Regions from separate parts of the Homo sapiens genome. Here region 1 is reported to be linked to region 2. The links are microRNA targets in miRTarBase. Many come from high-throughput screens and were not tested one by one. Region 2 holds a microRNA gene; the other region holds the end of a gene's coding sequence.

Region 1 (7,124 bases), not on the chromosome of region 2:
TACAGATGTCCTGTACTGTTACTAATACTTTAGTGTAAATCTGCGATGTGTCCCTGTGTAGGTAGGTCTTATAAAAAGGAGTTAGAAAGGTAAATGAATTAAAATACTAACACATATTTCTAAAATTAAACTTATTTAAAATTATATCTTTTTATATTGATGTTAAGAAATTTTTTAGGTAGGATAATAGTATGGTGATTTGTTTAAGTCTCTAGAAATAATGTATCAAAGTATTTATTGATGATATGGTATCTTGGAATTTCTTCAGAATCACCTGGGAAAGAGTAGTAGTTAGGGATGTAGATGAGACAGGATTAGATAAGATGTTCATTATTCATCTTTTGCTCTTGTTCTCTCTGCCTTGTAGCATGAAAGGTCTTTTTCATTTTTAATCCCTATTACTAGAATAAAACACAGAAACAGACAAACTAATGAAGTCTGTGGCAACAGGTCTGCCATAGGTTAATGTTTCAAGTAGCAGTATGTTTTTTGTGCTCTTAACTATTATTTTAGGTGATATAACTATTTTCCACTGTTAGCCTGTGGACTGTTAACTGTACATTCAAAAGGTAGTCCTGATGTATAGCAAAACATGAAAAGCACTGCATTACTGTGATAAAAGTGGTTCTGTTTTATGGGGAATAGTTGTTTGTTAATGACAGTGCAGTATTGACAAATTTATCTTCATGATGCCTCTTTTTCCATGGTTTTATTGTAATGAATCTTACTTTCTTGTTCTAGGCTGCTGAAAATATGACAAGCTGACTTTCTGGAGAAATTCTGATGAGATATGTCAAGCTCTGCAAGAGGGTTTGAAGATTGCATTGTAGTTGAGAATGTACAATGAAATTACTGCATGCAGCAGTGTAGAAAAATTTTACTTTTTAAAAGAATTATAAAACCATAGCTTTATAAATCAGTGGAAAGTGGCTTACAGAGAGAACTATCAGATGTGTTTACATCACATCTTATTCACTTTTTTTAACAGCTCTAATGCTTTGGCATTGCTATGTTCATATTTATGTATTCCTTATTTATAGCTCTGATAGCTTTAATTTTCTAAGCAGTCTGTCTATCAGATGTGCACATCTGCTGTGCCAGGTTGAAGTATAGTGGAACCCATCAGTAGTAATGTGTAGTAGTTATGACTTGTTGACATTTCCATTATAAACTTTAATTTTGAATTGTTTATGCATTATAACTGTGGATTTATATTGTATTGGGCTGAAAGTTGACAGGATTTCAGCCACCACTTGTGAATTTTTATTTAGATTCATTATGTATATCAGAATCTTGTTTTTTGAAATAAGAGCATGGAAAACATTTCTTGTAATCTACTCTTGAACAAAGAATATTTAGTTTTTCAAACAGTTTGTTGGGCAGCTAATAGTGTGAACCAGGTCATTTTTGTATTGAGTAAAAAAATCAAACTTTGAGAAACTTGGATTTTAAAAGTAATGACAATGCTTAGGTTAGTATTATTTGTAATTTGAATCATTTACATCTAATGAGAATGTTAGTTGAGAATGTTTTCTTAAAGTTTTATATCCTATAAATAACGGAATAAAAAAATTTGTAAAATGAAACAACAAACATGCAAAATTCCTATTTACTTTTATTACATAAAAGTAATTTTAGTGCTTACCTAATAAATCTTGAATGGTTATTTAATAAATTATTAGATGGGTGATGTGTTTCAAAAGATACTTGCTATTTTTTGAAGAAATAAGGATTTCCAGTCATTAAACAAAACTAAACAATCTTATTAGATGGGTGATGTGTTTCAAAGGATACTTGCTATTTTTTGAAGAAATAAGGATTTCCAGTCATTAAACAAAACTAAACAATCAAATGTTCTATATTAGGAATCTCAAGTATGGCTTTTTTTAAAAAACCTTTTTAACATCTTGATGTCAAGGATTATAAGTATGGCTTTTCAGAATTGTTTTGTTTGTCATTATTCTTGCCTTTAAAATTTTAACTCATCAAAGTGAAGATTAGAAATAAATTTTAGAAAATGTAGAATAGTATTGATTCTGTTCCTGTAATAGAATCTCAGTGGAGTTTTTTTGCAAAACTAATATGGATTTCATCTGATTTTATTATTTCTTAAATTTTAGATTTTATTGAGTACCATTTATATGATTGTACAAGCATTCACTCTTTACTAGCATTTTTTGTTTTTCAGACAAGCTGAAGTGGTTTTATTAAGATTTGGTAATATTTAAATAGCAACCTTCTCTGCCTTTTTTTTTTTTTAATATAGAATTTTGACCATTTTGACTTTTTAAATGCCTGGCATCTTTACCAACCAAGTAAACTGGAAGATCTGTTACTGGTAGAACAGGTTGAGGAGACAGTAGGAATTTGTAAAAAGTCATTTGATTTATAATCAACACTACAAATACTATGTGTTATTTATAAAATCATAAAGAACACTTTTGTCAGACTCCAAAATTTGTATATACTTCCAGGCCATAAGAGTTGATAGTATTATTTATGACTTTGTAGATTAAGTTATTTATGTATGAAACAAAGCAGGAAAATATATTGAGAAGGGATCGTGTTTACAGAGGACTTCTTTAAAGTGTCACATTTTTAAAATGTAAACATATTTTTAATGCATACTTAAGTAATATTTAAGAAACTAAACAAAATAATGATACAATTGCAGTGTTGTGCTTGTTGTCAATGACAAAAATAAAACCATTTTGGTGGTATTGGCCTGTACTTTTGTTTTAATATATGCTTTTGTTAATTCAACTTGTGTTTCTATAGGACAAAAGATACAGAACATAAAATTTACCATTTTAACCTTTTTTTTTTTTTTTTTTTGAGATGGAGTCTCACTCTGTCACCCAGGCTGGAGTGCATTGGCATGATCTTGGCTCAATGCAGCCTCCGCCTCCTGGGTTCAAATGATTCTCCTGCCTCAGCCTCCCGAGTAGCTGGGATTACAGGCACCTGCCACCATACCTGGCTAATTTTTTGTATTTTTAGTAGAGGCGGGGCTTCACCATGTTGGCCAGGCTGGTCTCAAACTCCTGACCTCAGATGATCTGCCTGCCTCAACCTCCCAAAGTGCTGGGATTATAGGCATGAGCTACAATGCCCTGCCCTTTTTAACCATTTTTAAGTTTCATAGTTCAGTGACATTCAGAATATTCTTATTGTATTGTAACTATCACTATTGTCCATCTCTTGAACTTTCTTATCCCAAACTGAAACTCTGTACCTGTTTAGCAGTAACTCCCCATTGCTTCCTCCTCCCAGCCCCTGGTAAACAGTTTCCTACTTTTTTGTCAATGAATTTGACTATTCTGGATACCTCATATAAGTGGAATCATATTTGTCCTTTTGTGTTCGTCTTATTTTACACAGCACGTCTCCAAGATCTATCCATGTTATAACATGTATCCAGATTTCCTCTTTAAGGATGAATATGTCTCATATATACATGGGAGACAGGTATTCTTTTATATATATGGTGGACATTTGGGTTGTTTCTACCTTTTGTCTATTCTGAAAAGGCTATTCACAATAGCCACAATGTTATGGGCATTGGTATACAAATAACTGTTCAGGTCCTTGTCAGTTCTTTGGAGTGTATACCCAGCAGTGGAATTGCCAGCTTTTAAACATTTTTTTTTAAGTTTAACTTTAATTCCATAGGCATTAGAGAAAGAAGGGGACATGGTCAAGCTTTTTTTGGGAGTTGCTTTGCTAGTGACATGTAGGCTTGATTTGAGCAGGGAGAGGTTAGAAGCAGAGACTAGTTAGAACACTACTGAGTAACCCAGGCCTCAATGCTCACATCTGGGTAGATTCAAGAGACATTACAAAAAATAAACATAGGACTTAATGGCAGGTTATGGGGAAAATAGAAAAGAAAATAAGGTGACTGAGTTTCTAAGCCTGGGTAACAAAGATATTATCAGCAAATGGAAATCAAGAAGGGAATATAATTTTCCTGGAAAAAAATGATTTTTATTTAAAGAGTATTGTGTTTAACATATATATTAAATCTTAAACCTTGCCAATCTTCCAAAGACCATTGCCCATCTCCATTTTTTTTTGTCCTACAGCATTACCACTCTCTAACATAGTATACAATTTACTTAGTTTTATCTATTAATATAAACAAATATACCTCTACCTGAAAGTCCCACAGGGGCGGGGATATTTCTGTGTTGCCACTGGTGTATCTTAAGTGTCTTGAACAGTGCCTAGCACATAAGAAATGCTCAATAAATACATGTTGGCTGAATGAATGGATAGACTGGGCATCCAGGAAACAACATGTACCACGTGGTTGAAAATAACTAACATTGAGAACTTGCTGCATGCAAGGCACTGGTTTTGGTGCTTTTAATAGATCAAATTGTTTAACCTTTAGGCTTACAGCAACCACGAGAGATAGATAGCATCATCCTATTATAGGTCAGGAAGCTGAGGCACAAAGTGGTATACAACTTAAATCTCAGAAGTGGTAGAGCCAGGATTTGAACCCTGGTAAATTGAGTCTGGAGCCCACACACCTTAGTGCCTGTTACTATACATCATCTCATGGGATGAAGAGGCACAACTGGAGAGGAAGATGAAGGAGATTGAAAATCAGATGGCCAAAGTGGTAGTCGAAGCTCTGGATGTAGATGCTGAGAATTTAATAGAAGACTAGTGACAGATGCTTCTCTTTCCCAGGATTGTCCCATTCTTAGGGAATATACCATTGATGATGGTAGGTTGGTGAAGTTTTGTAGCATCTCAGCAGATCTATATTACTGCTTTTTAATTACAACAATGTAAATAAATAACAGGTTAAAGTCATTCCCTTTCCAGAGGTGCTATACTTGAGAAACCCAGTTCTAACAACAAAAAGATCTCTCTTTTATGAAGTTCACTGTTGGGCTCATATATACCAGACTGGAGTATTGTAAATGTTGTAAAAAAGATGGTGCATGTGGTACTCACTTTGGCAGCACATACACTAAAATTGGAACGATACAGCAAAGATTAGCATGGCCCCTGCACAAGGATGACACACAAATTCGTGAAGTGTTCCATATTTTTAATTGCTTCAAAGAGAATAAAATACCTAGGAATCCAACTTAGAAGGGATGTGAAGGACCTCTTCAAGGAGAACTACAAATCACTGCTCAACGAAATAAAAGAGGACACAAACAAATGGAAGGACATTCCATGCTCATGGAAGAATCATGAAAATGGCCATACTGCCCAAGGTAATTTATAGATTCAATGCCATCCCCATCAAGCTACCAATGACTTTCTTCACAGAATTGGAAAAAACTACCTTAAAGTTCATATGGAACCAAAAAAGAGCACACATTGCCAAGACAATCCTCAGCCAAAGGAACAAAGCTGGAGGCATCACGCTACCTGACTTCAAACTACACTACAAGCCTACAGTAACCAAAACAGCATGGTACTGGTACCAAAACAGAGATATAGACCAATGGAACAGAACAGAGCCCTCAGAAATAATGCTGCATATCTACAACCATCTGATCTTTGACAAACCTGACAAAAACAAGAAATGGGGAAAGGATTCCCTGTTTAATAAATGGTGCTGGGAAAACTGGCTAGCCATATGTAGAAAGCTAAACTGGATCCCTTCCTTACACCTTATAGAAAAATTAATTCAAGATGGATTAAAGACTTAAATGTTAGACCTAAAACCATAAAAACCCTAGAAGAAAACCTAGGCAATACCATTCAGGACATAGGCATGGGCAAGGACTTCATGTCTAAAACACCAAAAGCAATGGCAGCAAAAGCCAAAATTGACAAATGGGATCTAATTAAACTAAAGAACTTCTGCACGGTAAAAGAAACTACCATACAGTGAACAGGCAACCTACAGAATGAGAGAAAATTTTTGCAATCTACTCATCTGACAAAGGGCTAATATCCAGAATCTACAAAAAACTCAAACAAATTTACAAGAAAAAACAACCCCATCAAAAAGTGGGCAAAGGATATGAACAGACACTTCTCAAAAGAAGACATTTATGCAGCCAACAGCCACATGAAAAAATGCTCATCATCACTGGCCATCAAAGAAATGCGAATCAAAACCACAATGAGATACCATCTCACACCAGTTAGAATGGCGATCATTAAAAAGTCAGGAAACAACAGGTGCTGGAGAGGATGTGGAGAAATAGGAACACTTTTACACTGTTGGTGGGACTGTAAACTAGTTCAACCATTGTGGAAGACAGTGTGGTGATTCCTCAAGGATCTAGAACTAGAAATCCCATTTGACCCAGTCATCTTTACTGGGTATATACCCAAAGGATTTTAAATCATGCTACTATAAAGATGCATGCACACATATGTTTATTGCGGCACTATTCACAATAGCAAAGACTTGGAACCAACCCAAATGTCCATCAATGATAGACCGGATTAAGAAAATGTGGCACATACACACCATGGAATATTATGCAGCCATTAAAAAGGATGAGTTCATGTCCATTGTAGGTACATGGATGAAGCTGGAAACCATCATTCTCAGCAAACTATCTCAAGGACAGAAAACCAAACACCGCATGTTCTCACTCATAGGTGGGAACTGAACAATGAGAACACTTGGACACAGGAAGGGGAACATCACACACTGGGGCCTGTCCTGGGGTGGGGGGAGGGGGTCGGGTAAAGCATTAGGAGATATACCTAATGTAAATGACGAGTTAATGGGTGCAGCACACCAACATGGCACATGTATACATATATAACAAACGTGCATGTTGTGCACATGTACCCTAGAACTTTAATTAAAAAAAAAAAAAAAAAAAAAGATGGTGCATGTGACAGCCCTAAATAGCAGTCTCAGGAAATCTGTTAACAAGTGACACTGTCCATTAGAATAGGGCAGAATTTTTTTTTTTTTAGCAGTCCAGAGGTCTTTTATTTTAACACCTATTGTGCCATGAACTTATAGGGAATAGGCTCCAGCAGCTCAGACTCCTTCCCATTGGTTCTCACAAAGTGTGCTTCTCTGGGTGGAGCAGGCTGGCACTTCAGTTGCACCCAGGTACCTTTCTCTTTGGCTTCTTTTTCTGATAATTTTCCTTCACATGTTTCAAGAAGCTGTCTCAACT
Region 2 (7,124 bases):
TAATATAGAACAAATGTTACATAACACAGATTGCCCCATTAATCTGTAGCATCTAGGGATAACTGGCCTAGCTGGGCAGAGTATAACAGCTTTATTATAAAGAATGCCTACCCCCTCATTTAGCTTAGGTTTGGCCTTATCATTTTGAAAAACCTTTCAAATTTCACTGCATAAATTATGCATCCATCTTACTAAATTTTAAAGCAGTATATCAAAATTTTTCATAAGAAATAAACAGTGTCACCTGGTCAAACAAAATAATCCTATTACCACAGAACACATTACATTCTACCTTTGGCAGGGAAGACTTCTGAGCTCAGCAATAACTATCCTTTCACTGCTATTTGAGTCTAAGGTTTCCAATGTGCTAAAACAGAGGGCCACAGAATATGCAATAAATCTGCTTTATTTAGAGTTCATAGGAAGGGATGCTTGATGCATGCTAATCATCCAGCCTGAAAATTGTATTTACAAGTTGGAAAGCCACCTGAGTCTGAAGCAACTGACCCCCATCCCCAAATAAGTCTTATAAACTACTACTCTAACAAAAGAGCATTTAAAAAATAAAAGCTGTAGCACAAATACATCTGGGGTAACTACATTATGACCAAAACTGTCATTTGCTCATCTGGATAAAAGATAAGAGGCAACAGTAGACACTGCTGCAATAAGATAATATAAAATCATTACTAAAGTACTATACATGCAAGGTGCTTTACTTGCTGTTTATAACAGGAAAAAATAGAATTATCAAGATTTAATGTCTCTGACCTCAGAAAGCTTATAATCTAATCAAAGAAAATAAGCATGTAAATACATTAGATTGGCAAGACCTTTATCTTTTGGTGGTTTAATCATGTATGGAACCTAACATAGTATGTTTAGCAGTTTAATAAAAATAAATGATTTAAAAAAACCAATGCTTTATTGAAAAGAAAAATGCCAATAAAATAGAAATGTTTTCCAGTGTCTGAAAGACTAACAGAAATAAAATAACAATTTTTTAAAACTCAGAAAATAGTTGCTATAAAATTATACATTATCAATTAGTCCACACTGAGTGTCATCTGTGAGAAAAGCCCTGGATTATTCAGATCTGTGGGGAAACACAAAAAATAGATACAATACAGCTGCTTTCAGGGCAGCTATATTTTAAGGAGGAAGCAATAAATCTGAAAGCAACAATCTGAAAATACTTAGGAAAAATATTAATATAAAAAGACATGCATACCCATTAGCAAATGTAAACAGGCTTAGTGGCTTGACGTCTTGCAGTTTTTCTTAGAGGAGAGTTCTGATTAGGAGCTGTAATATCACTCAGGGTGAGGGGAACAGGAAGTGGGGGGCTAAGAGGACGGAGAAAAATGTTGCACACACATCTCTTTTAAGTATAGGGAAAGCTGAAATTTCTAGATTGCATACTGCTGGGTGGTAGTGATGAAATTATTCTCCAGAACTTCCACAGAATTTACAATGGAGAAAATCAGTCTCCTGAATTGTTGGGATGTTAAACTCCAGCCTACTTGGAAAGGTTATAAAGACTAAAATTTCATTGACAGGGCAGAAACAGGAATAGGCGGTGACACTTTTTATTTAACTAAATTCTCTAAGGCCCAGCAGCAGCACGCTAAGTCTGGGAAGCTCGAGACGGCATATCCTGTTATTAGGAGAGCACCCTACATTCAACTATCATAATACGTGCACTGTCAGTGCAGTAAAAGAATGCAGCTAAAGATTTCTGAGGTTTTCCCACACATTTTATAGCCTCCTCAACTCCACTCCGGGACAGAATTATATCAAGAGGATGTCTGTGAATAGCCGGTAGCAGCAAACATCTGACTGAAAGCTTAGCTGTGTCTTACAGCTTCCAGTCGGGGATGTTTACAACAACAGACTTTCTGAACAAGAAATTTAAGAGGAGGAACAGACATAAATGTTGCCAGTCATCATCTTCAGCTAATAATTTATATAATTTCTAGTGCTGAACAATAGCTGTGACATCTTGAAACAAAAATGATAAAGTTAATGCTAATAATTAAAGAGAAAGTGGTTCACCAAGTGCAATTTCTCCTAAATAAATCTAATTTTAAAAGAAAATACGCATTACAAATTTATCTTGGTAAGTATGAAACATTAAAGATATTACCCTGATATCCTACATGAGGATACATTTTTCCAACATATGCAAAAATAAGTTTTCTTCTCCCTAGAGTTTCAAAATAGTAAACACATTAGAATGATAACCCTAATGATCAGTGACCATACATTTCATGGATGCCTGCTGCCCTGACGTTATTGTTAAAAATGACTCCTTTTATTTAAAAAAGCGTTAATTTAGTTGACAATGAATAGAGTGGGTTTTCCTGGCAGAGGATCTAAACTGAGTAAGAATCTAACACTTTCTTCCCCTGTCTCCAGCTGATTTAGGTTAGGGATGTACAGTTCAAGGAAATGAGCAAAACAAAGAGGATAATAAAAGAAACTCATGATCTTAAATTTGTTTATAAGGCAATATACTAAAACCATTTTGTTTCCACACCACTTTTCTGAAAGAAAGGAAAAAGACTAAGTGAAATATAAGTAAATCTGCATTCCATCAAAAACCAAGATTTGCTTTAATTTAAAATATGTAAAATTGCCAGGCACAGTGGCTCATGTCTATAATCACAGCACTTTGGGAGGCCGAGGCAGGTGGATGGGTAGATCGCTTGAGTCCCGGAGTTCAAGACCAGCCTTGGGCTAAGTGGCAAAACCCTACCTCTAAAAACATACAACATATTAGCTGGGTGTGGTGGTGCATGCGGTCCCAGCTATTCGGGAGGCTGAGGTAAGAGGATCCCTGAGCTTGGGAGGTGGAGGCTGCAGTGAGCTGAGCTCATGCCACTGCACTGCAGCCTGGGCGACAGAGTGAGACCCTGTCTCAAAAAAAATAAAAATAAAAATAAAATAAAATATGTAAAGTAACCTTCTTTTGGGGAAAAAAACTATGAAAACAATTAAAGTCCACAATTAAGTCACAGTGATTTATGAAATGATTTAAGAAATGAACATACATACATACATGAGCATGCATATGTACACACACACTCTACAGAATAACTACTGAAGAAAACCAATATACAAATTCTGAGAGACTATTAATTTCCTAATACCAAATTTTTTGAGAAACTATGAGAAAAGGATTTCAGTTGCTGATATTTACCCTGTGATAATATTTAACGGTTGCTCTCTGAAATACTTTTTGTTTAATGTTGTAAATAACTCTACCCATTATATAAATAATGCTGGAAATAATGAGGAAAGTACATGTGGTCTCTATGGATACAAGATGACCTTCACTGTTTTTGAAGAAAAATACTTTTTTAAAAAGTCCAGTGGCTATTTACAACAACAACTATTCAAACTGTACTACAACTGAAACTTTCCAGATTTAAATCAGGAAAAAAATAGCTATTTCATGCCTAGGTAGGCACATGATACTTGACTAATGAGGATGCTGCACATTAAGTTGCAATAAACCAGTTACCACAAGTCTCCAAATCTCCCCTTTAATTTACCTTCCTGTCCTCAGTTTAATTTTTTTAAAGACTGATCAAAAGACATTTTTATCAGAGCCACTGTATTTAACTCACACAAACAATACATAGAATATTTTCTTCAGAGTTATGAAGGAATTTTGTCAAATGCTATGACTTTGTATAATATATTCTTGAGGAAACATGAAAATTAAATGTACAGAAGTTGAATATTAAGTATATGTGATAAGAAACCCTATTATAAAATACCTTCTATCATTATAAAGTATCTTCTAGACACAATCTTTGTAATAATACACAGTAAGAAGGTAAAGTCTAATGAGGGGATAGCTGAAGCTAAAGGTTTACCATTTTTGGCATGCTTTATGATTTCCATCTTTGTCAAAAACATTACATATTTGCGGGTCAATTTTCTATCAGCATTAGCATTTTACTTTTAACACATTTTTATAAAAATGGGCAAAACACACATGCATACATACAATCTGCTGTACAGACAAAAAAATGGATATTACTGAGCTACTGACTGGAACAGTGCTACTGGTTCAGTAACTGGAAATGTTTGTCAATCTATCAAAAGCAGTTTATGAATATCCATATATAATGTATGCCATGCCACATTTGCCACAGATTCTGTCCTACCACAGATGTCTCAAGTACAATGCTGAAACCAAGTTAGATACCTAAACACATCTCTTCCTATGTGACAATCCAGAACGAATACAAGCCATTATCTCCCAAGAGTATTGTTGTAAGAGAGTTTTACTGGGTTTATAAAATTTTACCAGAATACATAAGAAAACAATTAACAGGAAACAACATTTTGTAACTTAAGATAAATATTCTGGAAAAAAAACCCTCAAATGAAGTAAAATTCTGAATTGGCCTAGATTTCGCATCCCTTAAATCTATTAATTAGCTGAAATTCAGTGATGTCTAGGAAGGCTGTCAGAAATGGTTGGCTACAATTTGACTCTGAACTCTGAAATAAGGCAGGGCAGCTGGGAAGGTAAACACAAAGAGTAGTAGCAGGGTGGTGACAGGGAGAAAACACTTGGCAGAAGGCAAGAATTCACAAACCACCAGAAACCGACCATGGAGCAGAAAATGCCCCCAATTACATGGAAAAAAAAAAAAACAAAAAACACAGATACTCCCAAAGAGACTCTATTCTTGTTTTCAATCCATTCAATAATAATTACCATTCTCTATATATCCAATGTTAAATAAATAGAGCAGAGACAAAAAGAAAAAGAAAACATTATCTAAATTAATAAACTTAATCTACTTGAAAAATTTATAAAATAGAAGGGTGTTTAGGACAGAAAGATGAAAAGGCTTCCTGTTCTATAAGGCTTATTTATCATTTACTCATTATTACTAACTGCCCTTTGTAACAAAAGCTTCAAAGTGTTTTTATACATTTTCTCATCCTTATGCAGTAACTACTTTTAAGGGTAGTAGCAGAGCAGATGATAATTCTATTTTACAGATGAAGAAGAAGGTACAGATTGGAGAAACGATTTCGCTAAGCTCACATGAGTAAGGAGCTGAGAACAAATTGTGGTTTCCCTGACATGCACATGCACACATGCAGAAACGTATGTAGTATGTGTGTGGATGTGAACGCTAGGCCCTGGGAGAAACAAAGACGAGCAAGCCAAGGAGTCCAAGGAGGGCCTGTTCTGTGATTAACAATGCTCACTGCCTAGAAGGTTGAGACTAGGAGACCAGAGACTCAGCCTCCCAGGCTGCTGACTACCAGCTAGCTGTGGATTAGGAGCACAGCACTTACTCTTTTGCCTTTATTTTCTTGACACACAAAATGAGGCTTAGGCAAAACAATTTTAATTCAGTGGGAAAAATACCAAATCCTGATCAGGCAGGCCCACTATCTAGGAACAACCAAGTACCTGGTGACTCTGAAGACATCTAAGCCCAGCACAATGAAGTCTGTAAGATCGTAGCAAGAGTCACAGGGAATGGTAACGTCTGCAGTCCCATCTACTTTGCCGAATTCTGAAGACACCTGAAAACAACCAAATGGAACATGAAGATGAAAGCACTGTGAAACATACTGTCCAACAACAAAGTACACTTTAATCATCACCATGACATCTTATTTGTACCGCATGCTCACACCTTTTATGTAACTAGATTTTTACAGTGATAACTGAGAAGTAGGCAAGATGGGTACCATTATCCCTGCTAAACCCAGCTATAATCAGTTCTGCTATAATAATGAATATCTGCTTTCTGAAGTATCCATTTCAGATGTTGTGACTATAAGACTCAAATTAATTATCAAATCAAAGTTTGCCTAAGATACTATAAACAATCAAAATATATCCATACTGTGAAGGATTTGACAGCTAGACTGTTTTTAATCCTTCCCCTACTTCTGTCACCTCTAACAGGAGCACGTCTCTTCTTGTGCTGTATGAGCACAGTTCAGATACAAATACCCTTTGGTGTTATTGGTGCTTAGACCTGTGAGGCAGAGAAACACAGCTCCCCTTTCTCCACAATTCTGAACCAAGCATCATCATATACTCACACAGCACACAGCCTGATCTAGGCCAGTGGTTCTCAATGCACTCTCCTAACCAGCAGCGTCAGCATGGCTTAGGCAACTGTTACTAAAGTAATTCTCAGACCCCCACCACAGACCTACTCCATCCAAACTAGGGGGATGGGAGCCAGCAGTCTGTTTAACAAGTACTCCAGGTAATCCTGACCCATACAGAATCTTCAAAACCATTGATCTGAGCTTAGTCTATAGTCTCAATAACATGCCTAAAGCCTAATCAACAACACAGCCTTGCCGTTCGGGTGACCAGTTTTCCTAAATAGTATTTTAAGAAATTGTTCTGGTTTGTCCGGGACTGTGAGGGTTCCTTGGACAAGAGATTTTGAGTTTTAAAACCAGGACAGTCCTAGGCAAACAAGGATAATTTACCTTAATTGTGATTACAAATCAAAGCTGAAACAACTATTCACTTAAAATGGAGTGATGCTATTACAGACTAAATGCATATTGCATTTTGAGTGGAGGGCGATGGTAACATTAAAATCCTAGGATGCATGAATGGATAATTTTGTTTATCATGTCGGTAAACTGTCTGCATAGGAATGCTTCAAACCTAGAGGGGAGGTGAAGTGGGACAGTGCTTTGAACAAAAGGATCAACTACTTTTTATTAAACTATAGGGCATTCAGAATTTTTGTTTTCAAAATTCTCTGACCATAATTGAAACCGACAGTGAGTTGAATAGTAGCCAGTACCTTCCTAGATTCTTGAAACAGTGCCCACTCAAAGACCTAGGTCATAAATATAGTAAAATTTGTCACCACCAACACATAGAGCTAACTGAGTGTTAAGACCACTTAGAACAAGAGAATCTGAGTGGGTATGTAGCCCCACAGCACTCAGATAACTGAAAGGCAGAGATCCTAAACTCTGCTTTAGAGACTTAACTAAACACCATGAACTACACCCAAAACAAAACTGATAACCACTATAGATTCTATAGTGCGTTCCATGATTCATACATACAATAATACATTTAAATTTCCAAGAATCCTGGA

Evidence for each region. The annotated mature microRNA hsa-miR-30d-5p reads UGUAAACAUCCCCGACUGGAAG and lies in region 2 at 1,865-1,886, opposite strand. An mRNA with a match to its seed (bases 2 to 7 or 8) in the 3' UTR can be bound and repressed. Matches are read on the target gene's strand: a 7mer-m8 pairs with bases 2 to 8, a 7mer-A1 pairs with bases 2 to 7 and ends in A, and an 8mer does both.
Region 1: the mRNA of MZT1 is a reported target of hsa-miR-30d-5p. Seed matches in the 3' UTR shown: 8mer at 954-961 and 8mer at 2,565-2,572.

The regions. Positions count from the first base shown.
Region 1 is chr13:72,703,963-72,711,086 of GRCh38, reverse strand. MZT1 (mitotic spindle organizing protein 1) reads left to right here. Exons shown (of 3, transcript NM_001071775.3): 3 at 742-2,720. The coding sequence ends at 765. It also overlaps the pseudogene RPL21P110 and the pseudogene RNU6-80P. Among named protein-coding and RNA genes, the nearest start is that of MZT1, 20 kb to the left of the region's middle.
Region 2 is chr8:134,803,055-134,810,178 of GRCh38, forward strand. MIR30D (microRNA 30d) reads right to left here and starts at 1,891; the gene lies at 1,822-1,891. It also overlaps a transcript of ZFAT not described here.